2 linked regions of the Homo sapiens genome follow. Each later gene encodes a partner of the first gene's protein in a complex. Each region holds a gene or a part of one and is shown in the gene's direction. Other genes may lie near its edges. The genes, in order: ARPC3 and ARPC2.

Region 1 (7,835 bases):
CTCCAGTCTGGGCGACGGAGCAAGACTCCGTCTCAAAAAAAAAAAATTTGGCCGGGCACGGTGGCTTATGCCTGTGATCCCAGCACGTTGGGAGGCCGAGATGGGCGGATCACGAGGTCAGGAGATCAAGACCATCCTGGCTAACACGGTGAAACCCCGTCTTTACTAAAAATACAAAAAATATAGCTGAGCATGGTGGCAGGTGCCTATAGCCCCAGCTACTTGGGAGGCTGAGGCAGGAGAATGCCGTGAACCCGGGAGGCGGAGCTTGCAGTGAGCCAAGATCGCGCCACTGCACTCCAGCCTGGGCGACAGAGTGAAACTCTGTCTCAAAAAAAAAAACAAAGGCTGGGCACGGTGGCTCATGCCTGTAATCCCAGCACTTTGGGAGGCCGAGATGGGCGGATCACGCGGTCAGGAGATCAAGACCATCCTGGCTAACATGGTGAAACCCCATCTCTACTAAAAATACAAAAAATTAGCGGGGTGTGGTGGCAGGTGCCTGTAGCCCCAGCTACTCAGGAGGCTGAGGCAGGAGAATGGCGTGAACCCGGGAGGCAGAGCTTGCAGTGAGCCAAGATCACGCCACTGCACTCCAGCCTGGGTGACAGAGCGAGACTCTGTCTCAAAAAAAAAACAAATAAATATTTTCTAAAAACTTTGTATTTCAATAGGATCATTTTATTTTATTCAACTCCACAACTGTTGACAGTTGTATGTGTTTTCCCTTTATGGCTTTGATAGTTGTTATGTTTTGTATTTGGCTAATGTTCTCTGTGCTCCTTCCCTTGTGTCCTGCTTAGCAAAAGATACAGATATTGTGGATGAAGCCATCTATTACTTCAAGGCCAATGTCTTCTTCAAAAACTATGAAATTAAGGTAAATTACGGAGCTTTTAATATTTAACTTAGTTTTCTCATAGGGATAATACCAACCTTGCTATCCAGATTGCTGTGAGGAGAAAATAAAATGAAATCAGCATGTAATTTTTAAATTCGAGAGCAGTGCTTAATGTTAGCTTTTGTATAAATATTAGTTTCTTTTTTTTTCCTCCAAATTCTATACCAGGGGTTGGCAAACTCTAACCTGAGGGCCACATTTGGCCCACTGCCCCTTTTTATGAATAAACCTTTATTGGAACACAGCCACAACCATTTGTTTCTATATTATCTATAGTTACTTTCACACCAAAACAGCAGAATTGAGTAGTTGTGACAAAGACTGTATGGCCCACAAAACCTAAAAATACTGCCTGCCTTTTACAGAGAAAGTTTGCCAACCCCTTGCTAGAAGTATCTTTATTTATTCAACATTAGTTAAGCAGCACCTACTATGTGCCAGCCTTTTGTTTTGTTTTGAGACAGGGTCTTGCTCCGTCGCCCAGGCTAGAGTGCAGTGGCACAATCACAGCTCACTATACCGTCAACCTCCTGGGCTCAGACAGTCCTCCTGCCTCAGCCTCCCAGGTAGCTGGAACTACAGGCATGCACCACCACACCTGGCTAATTTTTTGTATTTTTAGTAGAGACGGGGTTTCACAATGTTAGGCAGGATGGTGTCTCGATCTCCTGACCTCATGATCCGCTCACCTCAGCCTCTCAGTGTGCTGGGATTACAGGCGTGAGCCACCGCTCCCGGCCCTAAAATGGAATTTCAGCCCCTCCTTGCCAAACTCTGAACTTCTGGAATCAAACAGGTTGTGAATTATTTATTTGTAGACTCTTGGTGTACAAATTGTAGTCTAAACATTCTGTGATGGTAATAGAATGTTTTCTATATCTCATGTGTGGGTTAAGTTTGTAACAGTTATAAATGTTACAATTCTCTGGGCACATTGCTTGAGTTCAGGAGTTCGAGACCAGCCTGGGCAACATGGCGAACCCCCGTCTCTACAAAAAATAGAAAAATTAGTGCATGGTGGCTCACGCCTGTAATCCCAACACTTGGGAGGCTGAGGCGGGTGGATCACATGATGCCAGGAGTTTGAGACCAGCCTGGCCAACAAAGCGAAACCCCATCTCTACCAAAAATACAAAAATTAGCCAGGTGTAGTAGTGCATGCCTGTAATCCCAGCTACTCGGGAGGCTGAAGCACAAGAATTGCTTGAACCCAGGAGGTGATGGTTGCAGTGAGCCGAGATCACACCACTGCACCCAGCCTGGGCGACAGAGCAAGACTGTCTCAAAAAAAAAACAAAAAACTCTGCCACATTTCATTTGTTCCCAGATACTATATTGTCTTAAAAATAGGGAAATGTGGCTGGGCGCAGTGCCTCTGCCCGTAATTTGGGAGGCCAAGGCGGGCGGATCACCTGAGGTCGGGAGCTTGAGACCAGCCTGACCAACATGGGGAAACCCCGTCTCTACTAAAAATACAAAATTAACTGGGCGTGGTGGTGCGTGCCTGTAATCCCAGCTACTTGGGAGGCTGAGGCAGGAGAATCACTTGAACCCAGGAGGCAGAGGTTGCGGTGAGCCAATATCACGCCATTGCACTCCAGCCTGGGCAGCAAAAGTGAAACACTCAAAAAAAAAAAAATATATAGGAAAATGGTGTGGTTTGGGGGTAATTTTTTTGTTGTTTTTTTGTTTTGAGACAGAGTCCCGCTCTGTCACCAGGCTGGAGTGCAATGGCGTGATCTCGGCTCAGTGCAACCCTCGACTCCCGGGTTCAAGTGGTTCTCCTGCCTCAGCCTCCCAAGTAGCTGGGATTACAGGCACGCGCCACCACGCCAAGCTAATTTTTGTATTTTTTGGTAGGGACAGGGTTTCACCACGTTGGCCAGGATGGTCTCGATCTCCTGAGCTCGTGATACACCCACCTTGGACTTCCAAAGTGTTGGGATTACAGGTGTGGGCCACCGCACCCGGCCTTTTTTTTTTTTTTTTTAATTCGAGACAGAGTCTTGCTCTGTTGCCCAGGCTGCAGTGCAGTGGTACAGTCTTGACTCATTACAACCTCTGCCTCCTGGCTTCAAGCGATTCTGTGGCCTTAGCCTCCCTAGCAGCTGGGATTACAGGCGCACGCCACCATGACTGGCTAATTTTTGTATTTTTAGTAGAGACGGTGTTTCGCCATGTTGCCCAGGCTGGTCTCAAACTCCTGGGCTCAAGCAATCCACCCACCTCAACCTCCCAAAGTGCTGGGATTACAGGCATAAGCCACTGCACCTGGCCTAAATTTGTGTAAAATTTGACCCAAAGTCCATACCACATTTGATCAACATTCATTTGTCTTCTCCACATTTTCTTTTTGGTTAGGTCAAGACATTGAGATTATGGAGTTCTTTGGGAGCAAGTCAAATGTGAAATAGTTGCTTCCTCCTTTAGAGTAATGACTATTTCTGTTCTCGGCAGAGACCCTGAAGGGAAGGGTTTTTAAAAATTAGCCAACCATATGGAGCAGTTCAGGCTTTCCAGGCAGCTTTGTTACTTCTTCCTATACAGTGAGGGGCTGTTGACACAGATCCTTGGGAACCCTGGGGCAAGGGGAGCCGAGAAAAACAAGAGAGAGCAGCCACTCAGCCGAGCGTGGTGGCTCATGCCTGTAATCCCAGCACTTTGGGAGGCTGAGGTGGACAGATCACTTGAGGTCAGGAGTTCGAGACCAACCTGGCCAACATGGTGAAACCCCGTCTCTACTAAAAATAGAAAAATTAGCCAGGCGTGGTGGCGGGCACCTGTAATCCCAGCTACTCGGGAGGCTGAGGCAGGAGAATTGCTTGAACCTGGGAGGTGGAGGTTGCAGTGAGCTGAGATTGTGCCACTGCACTCCAGCCTGGGCAACAGAGCAAGACTCCGTCTCAAAAAAAAAAAGCAGCTGCACATCTCAGAGTGGGGCTTGTGCCTTCCTCCCAGGGGCAGACGGAAAAGGAGACTGAGGAGACTGTGCATTTGGAGAATGGGAGTTTTGATGTGATAGTGGCTGTCCTACCACTGCATTCAGCAGATAATCAGAAGACAAAGATGGAATGCATACATTGCACATCATTGTTATGTTTTGATAACTGTTTTTAAGTCTTCTTTTTCTCCCTGTAGAATGAAGCTGATAGGACCTTGATATATATAACTCTCTACATTTCTGAATGTCTGAAGAAACTGCAAAAGGTAATTAAACTTGGATGATTGTATATCAGGAAAACAAATTGCTGAGAGGCATTTACCCTCCCAGTCATCTGGGATTTGTTGAGACTTTAAAGACAAGTAGAAAATATTTCCTCTGACTTACAGCATGGACTTAAGAGAAAAATTTGAATTTAGTTACCTGAACTTGTAGTATAATTGACTGACACAAAGATAAAAGTAGTGGTGTTTTAAGGCTTTGAATATATTTTCTCAAGACAGAAATCTTGACAGAGGAATTCCTTTTAAGCCCTTGACTCAAGGGTTCTTAACCTGGGGTCCAAGGATAGAATTCTTCTTTTCCCTGTAAAATATGTGTGTGTGTGTGTGTGTGTGTGTGTGTGTGTGTGTGTGTGTATATATATATATATATTTTTTTTTCCAGTGCAATTCCAAAAGCCAAGGTGAGAAAGAAATGTATACGCTGGGAATCACTAATTTTCCCATTCCTGGAGAGCCTGGTTTTCCACTTAACGCAATTTATGCCAAACCTGCAAACAAACAGGAAGATGGTAAGAACAGGTCTCTATCCTCACTCTGTGACACAAGAAGATTTTCTCCATTTGACTTCCTACCACCCCTCTTTTTCTTGCCTTGATTCATGTACAGATTGAGAGTGAAATCATAGGAAGTACATTATCTTATTAGTCACTCTCACAAACGATTCTTGGCAACAAGGATGACATGCAGAAAATCTTTTGAACAAAAACAAATATAGTTATAAAACTATCTGGACTGTCATTTCTATTTTGTATCCTGTTCAAATGTATAAAAATGTATTACCACAGTGAGCATCCAGAGCTGCAACCAGTACATTTGGGATGTATTTGCAAATACAGTTTTTTTTAAATTGTTCTGTTTTAGAAGTGATGAGAGCCTATTTACAACAGCTAAGGCAAGAGACTGGACTGAGACTTTGTGAGAAAGTTTTCGACCCTCAGAATGATAAACCCAGCAAGGTAAGACCCTCTTCTTGCCTGCTTAATTGGTAAATCACCTTTTATCCCATAGCCACCATTGAACACACTAAGGTCTTCCATTGCAAGAATATTTTTAATTTCTGCATTGCAATGTTGCTTAACTTCCAGTATATGTCTAGTATGTAATATGAGTTCACTGAATCACACTAAATAATGAATTGCAGGCCGGGCGCAGTGGCTCACGCCTGTAATCCCACCACTTTGGGAGGCCGAGGCGAGTGGATCACTTGCGGTCAGGAGTTCGAGACCAGCCTGGCCAACATGGTGAAACCCCCATCTCTACTGAAAATACAAAAAATTAGCCAGGCATGATGGTGTGCACCTGTCATCTCAGCTACTCAGGAGGCTGAGACAAGAGAGTCGCTTGAACCCAGGAAGTGGAGGTTGCAGTGAGCCAAGATCATGCCATTACACTCCAGCCTGAATGACAGAGTGAGACTTTGTCTAAAAAGGGTTTATGGCCAGGCGCGGTGGCTCACGCCTCTAATCCCAGCACTTTGGGAGGCCAAAGCAGGCGGATCATGAGGTCAGGAGATTGAGACCATCCTGGCTAACATGGTGAAACCCCGTCTCTACTAAAAAATACAAAAAATTAGCCAGGCGTGGTGGCAGGCGCCTGTAGTCCCAGCTACTGGGGAGGCTAAGGCAGGAGAATGGCATGAACCCAGGAGGCGGAGCTTGCAGTGAGCCAAGATCACACCACTGCACTCCAGCACTCCAGCCTGGGCGACAGAGCGAGACTCCGTCTCAAAAAAAAAAAAAAAAAGTTTATAAGAGATTCCAGACTAATGTGAAATTTTATTATTAAATAAATGCAAATTCTATTGTAATTTGACCCCGCTGTTCATTCTGTGTTGTTCTCTCTTGTTAGTGGTGGACTTGCTTTGTGAAGAGACAGTTCATGAACAAGAGTCTTTCAGGACCTGGACAGTGAAGGGAGCCCGGGCAGCCACCGTCTCCAGAGCCCTGGGCAGCATTTTCCAGCAAGATGTACACAATCTTTTGCCTTTATTTCGTAAAGTTTTATACAGAAGAGAGAAGAGCATGTCTTTACTTGAAAAACTCTTGATCAAGAATTTGGGTGGGAGAAAAGAAAGTGGGTTATCAAGGGTGATTTGAAATTTTCTGCAGCATTAAAGCTGGCGCTTAATAAGAATAAGTAATAATAAAGAAATTTCTAACATTCCATGTCAGAAAAACTTTATTGCCAGTCTTTGACATTCACTTACAATTTGTTTTGAGATAAAATTCACATTCCATAATGCCCTTTTAAAGTGTACAATTCACTTTTTTTAGTATATACATGAAGTTTTACAACCATCCCCAGTAAATCCAGAGCATTTTCATCACCCCGGTGTAGTGAACCTGCACTCTTTAGCAGCCACCCCACCCCACATTCCTCCCCAAGCCCCCTGTCCCTCCCACCCCTCCTCCCAGTATTAATCTACTTTCTGTCTCTATGGATTTGCTTATTCTGGATAATTCATGTAAATTGAATTTTTTATACAACATGTGGCCTTTTATGTCTAGCTTCTTTGACTTAATGTTTTCTAATTCATCCATGTTAGAGCATATATCAGTGCTTTCTTTTCTCTTTTTCTTTTTTTTCTCTCTGTGTATATGTATGAAATAAAATATACTAATATGGCCAGGCGCAGTGGATCACGCCTGTAATCCCAGCACTTTGGGAGGCCCAGGCGGGCAGATCACCTGAGGTCGGGAGTTTGAGACTAGCCTGACTAACACGGAGAAACCTGGTCTCTACTAAAAATACAAAAACCAGCCGGGCCGGGTGCGATGGCTCACGCCTGTAATCCCAGCAATTTGGGAGGCCCAGGCAGGCGGCTCACCTGAGGTCAGGAGTTTGAGACCAGCCTGACCAATATGATGAAACAATGTCTCTACTAAAAATACAAAAATTAGCCGGGCATGGTGGCACGCGCCCGTAATCCCAGCTATTCGGGAGGCTGACACAGAAGAATCGCTTGAACCTGAGAGGCAGAGGTTGCAGTGAGCCGAGATCGCACCATTGCACTCCAGCTTGGGCAACAAGAGCGAAACTCCATCTCAAAAAAAAAAAAAAAAAAAAAAAAAACTCAGCTGGGCGTGGTGGCGCATGCCTGTAATCCCAGCTACTCGGGAGGCTGAGGCAGGAGAATCGCTTAAACCTGGGAGGCAGAGGTTACGGTGAGCCGAAGGTTGCGGTAGGCTGAGATCGCGCCATTACACTCCAGCCTGGGCAACGAGTGAAACTTCGTCTCAAAAAAAAAAAACGGCCAGACGCGGTAGCTCACGCCTGTAATCCCAACACTTTGGGAGGCCAAGGCGGGCGGATCATAAGGTCAGGAGAATCGAGACCATCCTGGCTAACACAGTGAAACCTCCGTCTCTACTAAAAAAATACAAAAAATTAGCCAGGCGTGGTGGCGAGCGCCTGTAGTGCCAGCTACTCAGGAGGCTGTGGAAGGGGAATGGCGTGAACCTGGGAGGCGGAGCTTGCAGTGAGTGGAGATTGCACCACTGCACTCCAGCCTGGGCAAGAGAGTGAGACTCCATCTCCAAAAAAAAAAAAAAAAACCTAGAGTTTATGGTAGTACTTGAATGATTAGAGTATTTGCATTTTGTTTTTACGGGTGAATATATGATTTTAATATGTGGGTTAAATGCTCTTGAGCATCTGTTTAAAGACTTGAATTACAAGCTAGCTAAATACCACAGTTCACACAGCAAAA
Region 2 (8,480 bases), on another chromosome or scaffold:
TGCTTCCCAGGCTCAAACAATTCTCGTGCCTCAGCTTCCCAGGTAGCTGGGACCACAGGCGTGTGCCACCACACCCGGCTAATTTTTGTATTTTCAGTAGAAACAGGGTTTCCAGCTGGGCACGGTGGCTCACGCCTGTAATCCCAGCACTTTGGGAGGCCGAGGCAAGTGGATCACGATGTCAGGAGATCGAGACCATCCTGGCTAACACAGTGAAACCCCATCTCTACAAAAAATACAAAAACTTAGCTGGGCGTGGTGGTGGGTGCCTGTAGTCCCAGCTACCCTGAAGGCTGAGGCAGGAGAATGGCGTGAACCTGGGAGGCGGAGCTTGCAATAGGCCAAGATCACGCGACTGCACTCCAGCCTGGGCGACAGAACAAGACTCCGTCTCAAAAAAAATTAAAAAAAAAAAAAAGAAACAGGGTTTCCATGTTGGCCAGGCTGATCTCAACTCCTGGCCTCAAGCAATCCACTCACTTCAGCCTCCCAAAGTGCTGGGATTACAGGCGTGTGCCACTGCGCCCAGCCAGCTATACCATTTTTTTCAAGTTTTTGTCTTTGAAGCTGGGATGCATCTTACAATTCATAGCATGTCACACTTTAATTGGCAGCATGTTTCTCTTGTGGTACATAAAATTATGGCAGACTTACAGTCATAAGCACCTTAGATTCTTTGAAGTATAGTTGTCTTCTGTTGTGGTGTTCATTTACTTTCAGGCCAGGGCACATTGACACAGAAATTCCACACTTCCTTAGGAGGCATTCCTTTTCATTTCAACGAAAACTTCAGACAACTGACGGGGTTTTGCAGATAGTGAGTAGAGGAGGTGCAGCAGGTAAAAACGATTCCAGAAAACCAGGGCAAGAGGGGCATGCAGGCCTGCTGTAGTGCAAAGGACTTTGTGATGAGCACACAGGTCTTTTTTTGAGATGGAGTCTTGCTCTGTCACTCAGGCTGGAGTGCAGTGGCACCGTCTTGGCTCACTGCAACCTCCACCCCCCGGGTTTAAGCGATTCTCCTGCCTCAGCCTCCTAAGTAGCTGAGATTACAGGCACACGCCATCACATGTGGCTAATTTTTATATTTTTAGTAGAGATGGGGTTTCACCATGTTGGCCAGGCTGGTCTCAAAACTCCTGATCTCAGATGATCAGCCTGCGTCAGCCTCCCAAAGTGCTGGGATTACAGGCGTGAGCCATCGCGCCCAGCCTCACACAGGTCTTTAGGTGGCTGGTGTCACAGGGTGGACTTCAGTCAGGCCCATTCAGAGCAGCTCCTCCTGCCTGGCCTATCATGAGGGTTCAGGTCCTTACACCTTATTGTCTGTTTTCACAGTGAGAATATGGGAAATTCTCTGGCATCTGTTTTCTGGGAAGGTTTACTCTATTTCAGCACCAAGGACCTAAGACAGGCAGCTGCATTTCCTAATCCTGATTCCTTAAAGTAAACTGTTACAGCCAGTTAGTGTGATCCTGGAGTGTGTCCAGCTGCAGAGGCAAGAGCTAGTACCTGTGTGGCAGACCGGAAATAGATTTCAAAATGCACAGCTGCAGAATTCAGGAGTAGAATGAAGGCCTAGGGTCAAGCCCTGTTTTTCATCGTGGGCTCCTCCATTCACGCTCGTTGACACCTTTCCTGGCCATGCTGTTTAACTTCCATGTCAAGAAAAAACCCTGACAAAGCCTGGTAATACTGACACAAGTGGAGTGTACTTAAGCAGAGAGGGAGTGATGTTCACTAGGCTGTTGTTCTTCCCCACCCTTTGGCATTTGTGTCGTGTCCTGACGCCTTGTTTGTGTCTTCCGCCTTCAGTGCTGTTCCCTCGTCACACCAATGCCAGTGCTCGAGACAACACCATCAACCTGATCCACACGTTCCGGGACTACCTGCACTACCACATCAAGTGCTCTAAGGTGAGGGGGGTGCCAGCATCTCAGCCTCTATGCTCTGGGTCTTTTCCTCCACCAGAACTCCTGACAGAAAGTCATTCCATTAGTCTACGCTGTGGATATTGACTCTTAGGTAAATAATTCTAGAGGCTTCAAGAAACCATGGTCTTTCTTCATCAAGCCACTGTCCCCCATCCCTCCCTATAGCAGAGATGAATATTTGTTTCCAGAATTGCTCACCTTCCTGCTTCCCTGCAGGGCCTGGGTCAATCCCAGGGTGTATGTTCCCAACCGCCCTTGATGACCTCTCTGATGAAAGACAGCAAAGCTGTCTTTCTAGACCATGACTGTGCTTTAGTACCTGTTATGTTTGTTCCCAGGCCTATATTCACACACGTATGCGGGCGAAAACGTCTGACTTCCTCAAGGTGCTGAACCGCGCACGCCCAGATGCCGAGAAAAAAGAAATGAAAACAATCACGTAAGTTAGGCAGCACCCCAGCGACCACCTTCCTCTCCTGAGTCACCGAGAAGGAAGCAGTGGGCGCTGGTGGCCTGGTCCTCCATGTATCTGGGCACTGGCTACATATGAGGTCAGCAGGGCTAAGTAGATAAACCAAAGGTGGGATTCCATGTTCTCACTGCCATATAGGCCAGGATGGGTTTCCTTGTTTCCGTATCTTTGTGAGCTATGAGAATGGCAGCTAGGAAATAAACAAAGTTTACCAAGAGACTGTTCTTTTTGGGCCTGAGTTATGAGGTCAGTCTTGTGCTTTTGGTGGTCTTTCTGGAGAGATGGAGTAAGTTGCTTAGGGACCTTTAATTGGGTAAATAGGCCTGAAACCACCCCACTAAGTGTTCTTTTTCCTGGTCCACTCTCAGCAGGAAGTTTGCATGCAGAGGAAGGTTCTCTTTATCAGGGATAGAATTGAGGAGAGCCGTGACGGGCGCTGTGGCTCACGCCTGTAATCCCAGCACTTTGGGAGGCTGAGATGGGTGGATCACAGGGTCAGGAGTTCAGGACCAGCCTGGCCAAGACGGTGAAACCCCATCTTTACTAAAAATACAAAAAAAATTAGCCGGTCGTGGTGGCAGGTGCCTGTAGTCCCGGCTACTCGGGAGGCTGAGGCAGAGAATTGCTTGAGCCCAGGAGGCAGAGGTCGCAGTGAGCCAAGATTGTGCCACTGCACTCCAGCCTGAGCGACAGAGTAAGACTTAGTCTCAAAAAAAAAAAAAAAAATTTGAGGAGAGCCCTAAATAGGGGTGTGGCTCTGCATGCAGGAAAGGCGAGCATGGCCTAGAGCCTAGAGAGTTCCATCTTTGTGAAAGGTGCCAGACCTTGGTTCTTCTGATGAAATTCAGGCAGTCCTGTCCTTAAGATAAGGTAATAGTGTTCATTTGCTGGTTTTTGTTTGTTTGTTTGTTTTTTGGTGGGGGTGTTGGGGGAGACAGAGTCTCACTCTGTCGCCCAGGCTGGAGTGCAGTGGCGCGATCTCAGCTCACTGCAGCCTCTGCCTCCCAACTAGCTGGGACTGCAGGTGCACACCACCACGCCCGGCTAATTTTTTGTATTTTAGTAGAGATGGGGTTTCACCATGTTGCCCAGGCTGGTCTAGAACTCGTGAGCTCAGGCAGTCCACCCACCTCGGCCTCCCATCTGCTGTCTTTTGTACCAGTTGAACTAAAAGTCTTGAGGTCATAAGCCTCCCTCACAGCCAGTGTTATTTGCCAGCACCCCAGTACTGTTGTTGTTTTGTTTTGTTGTTTTGTTTTTGTTTTTTGTTTTTTGATACAGAGTTTCGCTCTTGAAGCACAGGCTGGAGTGCAGAGGCACAATCTTAGTTCACTACGACCTCTGCCTCCTGGGTTCAAGCAATTCTCTTGCCTCAGCCTCCCAAGTAGCTGGGACTACAGGCGTGCGCCACTAAGCCCCACTAATTTATTTGTATTTTTAATAGAGACAGGGTTTCACCATATTGGCCAGGCTGGTCTTGAACTGCTGACCTCGTGATCCACCTACCTCAGCTTCCCAAAGTGTTGGGATTAAGGAGTGAGCCACCGCGCCCAGCCCAGTACTCTGTGATCCCCAGCCAGGCTCAACCTCCTGGGCTCAAGCAATCCTCCCATCTCAGCCCCCCAAGTAGCTGGGACCACAGGCATGCACCATCACAGCTGGCTAATTTTTGTATTTTTGTAGAGACGGGATTTCACCATGTTGTCCAGGCTGGTCTCGAACTCCTGGACTCAAGTGATCCTCCCACCTCAGCCTCCCAAAGTGTTGGGATAACAGACATGAGCCACCACACCTGGCCCAGCACTCAGTACTCTTGAGGCAAAGTTTTAGTGGGTGTGGTACGCCTAGGGCTTTACACTCTCTCTCTTGCATTTGAGGGCTCTTCTACCAAGTTAGTTTCTGCTGTCATTTGAAAGGATGAGAAAGAGATCAAGGACTTGAGCAGTAGGTGAGGGTTTTCAGACATTGTCAAAAAGCAGTTTAAGGCCAGGTGCGGTGGCTCACGCTTGTAATCCCAGCACTTTGGGAGGCCGAGGCAGGCGGATCACCTGAGGTCAGGAGTTGGAGACCTCCAGCCTGACCAACATGGAGAAACCCCATCTCTACTAAAAATACAGAATTAGCTAGGCATGGTAGTGCATGCCTGTAATCCCAGCTACTCTGGAGGCTGAGGCAGGAGAATCAGTTGAACCCGGGAGGCAGAGGTTGCGGTGAGCTAAGATCGCACCATTGCACTCCAGCCTGAGCAACAAGAGCGAAACTCCATCTCAAAAAAAAAAGCACTTTTTAAGTCACCTCGACTTCTTTAGGCAAAGGCCTGTCTCTGTAGCAGCTCAGAGAGGAGTGTCCAAATGCCATGCAATGAAATGGCAGCATCGTTTCTTTTCTGCAGCTTCTTGGGCAGATCTTTAAATGGGCAAAGTGACCAACAAGGTGGGTGGGCAGGTGAGAGGATGTGCTTGCTGCCTCTCCAGAACCTAGTCTCCATCCTGGTGTCTACATTTTCCCCTTTCCCTGCTTGCTCTACACAGGAGTACTTTTCTCACCGGGTACTTGTTTGGTGACCTGGAGTGTGAGGCAGTGAATTTCATGCTGCTTTCAGGGCCCAGTAGACAGGCAGTTCAGTAGAGGCCAAGAGGTAAACTGGCAGCCAGGTACAGTGAGAGGGAAGCCTGACCTGGCAGCCTGTGATAACCGGACTGGAAGGCTGGGCATCATAATAGTCTCAGGGCTGCCAGCATCACCTTTGGCACTGGTAGCTGCTTGTGCATCCAGGAGGAAGGCCTGTTAGGCAGCTGCTGCCCGATTCCACAGCCAGCAGGCAGTCGTGGGAGTCCCTGCCCAGTGAGTGCAGTTGTGTAGCGGGCAGGGATAGCTCCCTGTCCTGGTGAGAGACCCAGGAAGGGATGAATCCTTAAAATGAACAGACTGTTCATAAGCCTCCTCTCTGGGACTTAGAAAGAGCAACTTTGCCTTCTTCTGTGCTGCAGCTTCTCTTTGGCAGAGTTGGGCCCCAGAAAGGAGAAGCAGGAGACAAACAGCTGCATCCACCCTGAAAACCAGATTATGTTACTAATGGTGGGTAGGAGTTAAGTGACTCAGCTGTGGGCAGAAGCCAGGAACCCTCGATGGGCCGCCCAGAATTGAACACTCAGGAGCTTTTCATTTGGAGAGAAGGATAATAAGGTGTAGCTTCATTTTGGAATAAGCGATACATCCAAGACAGGGAAAATCTAGAGCCCATGTTTTTGCCCTGATTTCCCATAGTTCTCAGCTCTAGCTTCCAGGCTGCTTTCCCAGATACTGTTAGGTACCAGTTAGAGGCTCTGTCCTTGAGAACCACCTAGCCCATCTGGAGAAATACTGGGTGGAACAGGACACCACAATTCAGGAGCCTCGAACCAGGCAGGTGTTGTATAAGCCAGAGGAGGAGTCACCACGTGATAGCAGAAATACCTTTAGCCTTGGAAGTTCTGAGGATTGCTCTGAACCAGCCACCTGCCTTCATGGTGAGAGATAAAGGAACTGCTATCTGGGAGCCCTGAGAGGTATACACTGTGTAGGAGGAGCTGACAAATGAGGTAGTACTAAGAAGACGGTTTGAGCCTAGTCGGAAATTCAGGTACGTCTAGGCCATCCAGAAATTGTGAACAAGTGATTCTTCTATCTAACTTGGTACGTTGAATGTCCTTGTGGGCTTAACACTGATATTCCCGGGCATCCAAAGTATCCAATAGGAAGGAAGAGCTCGTGAAACCATTCTGTGAAAGCCAGATTTTAGCCGATGTCCTGTGGTTCCAGTGCCTCTGCTTAAGGAATCTAGCCCTTTCCACCTCTCATTTGGTGTTTCTTTGGGATCCCATCTAGTCTAGGAGTGTGGGGTGGGAGGAAAGGGCAGCCAGAAACTGACCTTCGCACTTATCTCTCCTTTTGAAGGGGGAAGACGTTTTCATCCCGCTAATCTTGGGAATAAGAGGAGGAAGCGGCTGGCAACTGAAGGCTGGAACACTTGCTACTGGATAATCGTAGCTTTTAATGTTGCGCCTCTTCAGGTTCTTAAGGGATTCTCCGTTTTGGTTCCATTTTGTACACGTTTGGAAAATAATCTGCAGAAACGAGCTGTGCTTGCAAAGACTTCATAGTTCCCAAGAATTAAAAAAAAAAAAAAAAGAATTCCACTTGATCAACTTAATTCCTTTTCTTTATCTTCCCTCCCTCACTTCCCTTTTCTCCCACCCTCTTTTCCAAGCTGTTTCGCTTTGCAATATATTACTGGTAATGAGTTGCAGGATAATGCAGTCATAACTTGTTTTCTCCTAAGTATTTGAGTTCAAAACTCCTGTATCTAAAGAAATACGGTTGGGGTCATTAATAAAGAAAATCTTTCTATCTTACATGAGAATTTGCTGGGTTTCTGGACTGCGAGTCCAAAGTGAGAAGAGAAGGAAGGAAGAAGGATAGACCTATACTACCCTTGAACCTGCAAACCTAAGCTGGGAAGCCCTAGTTTCAGGAGCCCATCAGGTTTAGATCCTCACCTTCCCTAGAGGAGAGAATGGCTGGCCAGTGAGCTATATTTAAACTTTTTTTTTTTCCCCCTGAGAGACAGGGTCATTACCTCCTGGGCTCGGGTGATCATCCCACCTCAGCCTCCCAAATAGCTGGGATTACAGGCGCATACCACTATGCCTGGCTAATTTTTTTTATTTTTAGTAGAGATGAGGTTTCGCCATCTTGCCCAGGCTGGTCTCAAACTCCTGGACTCAGGCAGTTTGCTTGCTTCAGCCTCTCAAAGTGCTGGGATTATAGGCATGAGCTATGGAACCCAGCGAGCTATTAATACAAACTTACATGCTTCCTTATAAAGCTTGGTCCCTGAGACTCTGTGGCTGCTCCTGAAGCTCCCTGGTCAATGACAGAGAAATTAAAGGGTTTTCTGGTTTATCTTTTTATTGTGAATAATGTGTGGAATTTCCCAAAATGTGTTCCTTAGTGTGTGGTCCTGCAGGACATTGATGAGTATTCAGGTGTGGGTCTGATGCAGACTAATTGGCCACAGTTTGTCTTTCTCACATGGCAGCCCAAAAGACTGCTCTCAGGGAGAGCAGTTGTCAAAAACAGTACAGAGCCTAGTAGAGCAGCTGTCCCCCAGCAGGACTCTGGTCCCTGAAATGAAATTGCTTCAGAAAGTTTGCTTGGTGTAAGGAATTAAGAGGAGAATTTTAGGGGCACCTGCAACGGTCTGATGGTCATTCTAATGGTTTCTGCCTTCCATCTATGGCAGTGTTTCATACTGGCTTGGGACCCATTAATTGTGGTGTGACTATATCACAACAAGCATTTTTGTTTTCTAAACTTTTGATTTTGAGATAACTGTAGATTTAAATACGGTTGTAAGAAACAATACAGAGAGATCCTGTATACCTTCCACTTGGTTCCCCCACCATGCTAACATCTTGTATAATTGTTGTATAACATCACAGCCAAGAAAAAATCATTAGTATAGTCCACACACCTTCAGATTTGGCCGGATTTACGTGCACTGTATGAGATGTACATCTGTGCATTTTTATCATACGTGTAGCTTTGTGTGACGCCAGCATTTTTAAGCAATTGAATAGTATCAGAGTGCATTACATCTGTTAAGGGTAAGTGTTGATGTGGAAACGTATTTTAGTTACATATGCACATCATGACTGGATTGTAGAAATGTCTCTTGACTGTGAGTCACAGTGGAGAATTTTGAAAACCACAGGTCGTTCAGTCATCAGACTTGATTTTATTTCACTAAAATGGGCTGCTAGAGAGCTCAAGGTACTCTGATTTCTAATTGGCTGCTCAGGGTGCCCCTGACCACTTACTTCTGGTACTTGGAAAACCTAGATTAATTGGATATATTGACAGCAACATATGCATTCTCTACCCCATGAGTTATTTAAGGGGTTTTCAAGTGTAATTTTGACTAGAAGCAGTTTTTGCTCTTTTTTTGTTTTAATTTTAGTTTTTAGAGACAGGGTCTCACTGTGTTGCCGAGGCTGTACTCAAGCTCCTGACCTCCGGAGTAGCTGGAACTA

Evidence for each region.
Region 2: ARPC3 (region 1) and ARPC2 share a complex: the UniProt entries of both Homo sapiens proteins name them as parts of the arp2/3 complex.

What each region holds. Positions count from the first base shown.
Region 1 is NC_000012.12:110,433,357-110,441,191, reverse strand, and holds the end of ARPC3 (actin-related protein 2/3 complex subunit 3), read left to right. Parts: intron 1-803; coding exon 804-880; intron 881-4,039; coding exon 4,040-4,108; intron 4,109-4,508; coding exon 4,509-4,635; intron 4,636-4,987; coding exon 4,988-5,082; intron 5,083-5,974; coding exon 5,975-6,037; 3' UTR 6,038-6,369; downstream 6,370-7,835. UniProt on the Homo sapiens protein: Component of the Arp2/3 complex, a multiprotein complex that mediates actin polymerization upon stimulation by nucleation-promoting factor (NPF).
Region 2 is NC_000002.12:218,247,549-218,256,028, forward strand, and holds the end of ARPC2 (actin-related protein 2/3 complex subunit 2), read left to right. Parts: intron 1-1,815; coding exon 1,816-1,916; intron 1,917-2,272; coding exon 2,273-2,373; intron 2,374-6,342; coding exon 6,343-6,367; 3' UTR 6,368-6,800; downstream 6,801-8,480. UniProt on the Homo sapiens protein: Actin-binding component of the Arp2/3 complex, a multiprotein complex that mediates actin polymerization upon stimulation by nucleation-promoting factor (NPF).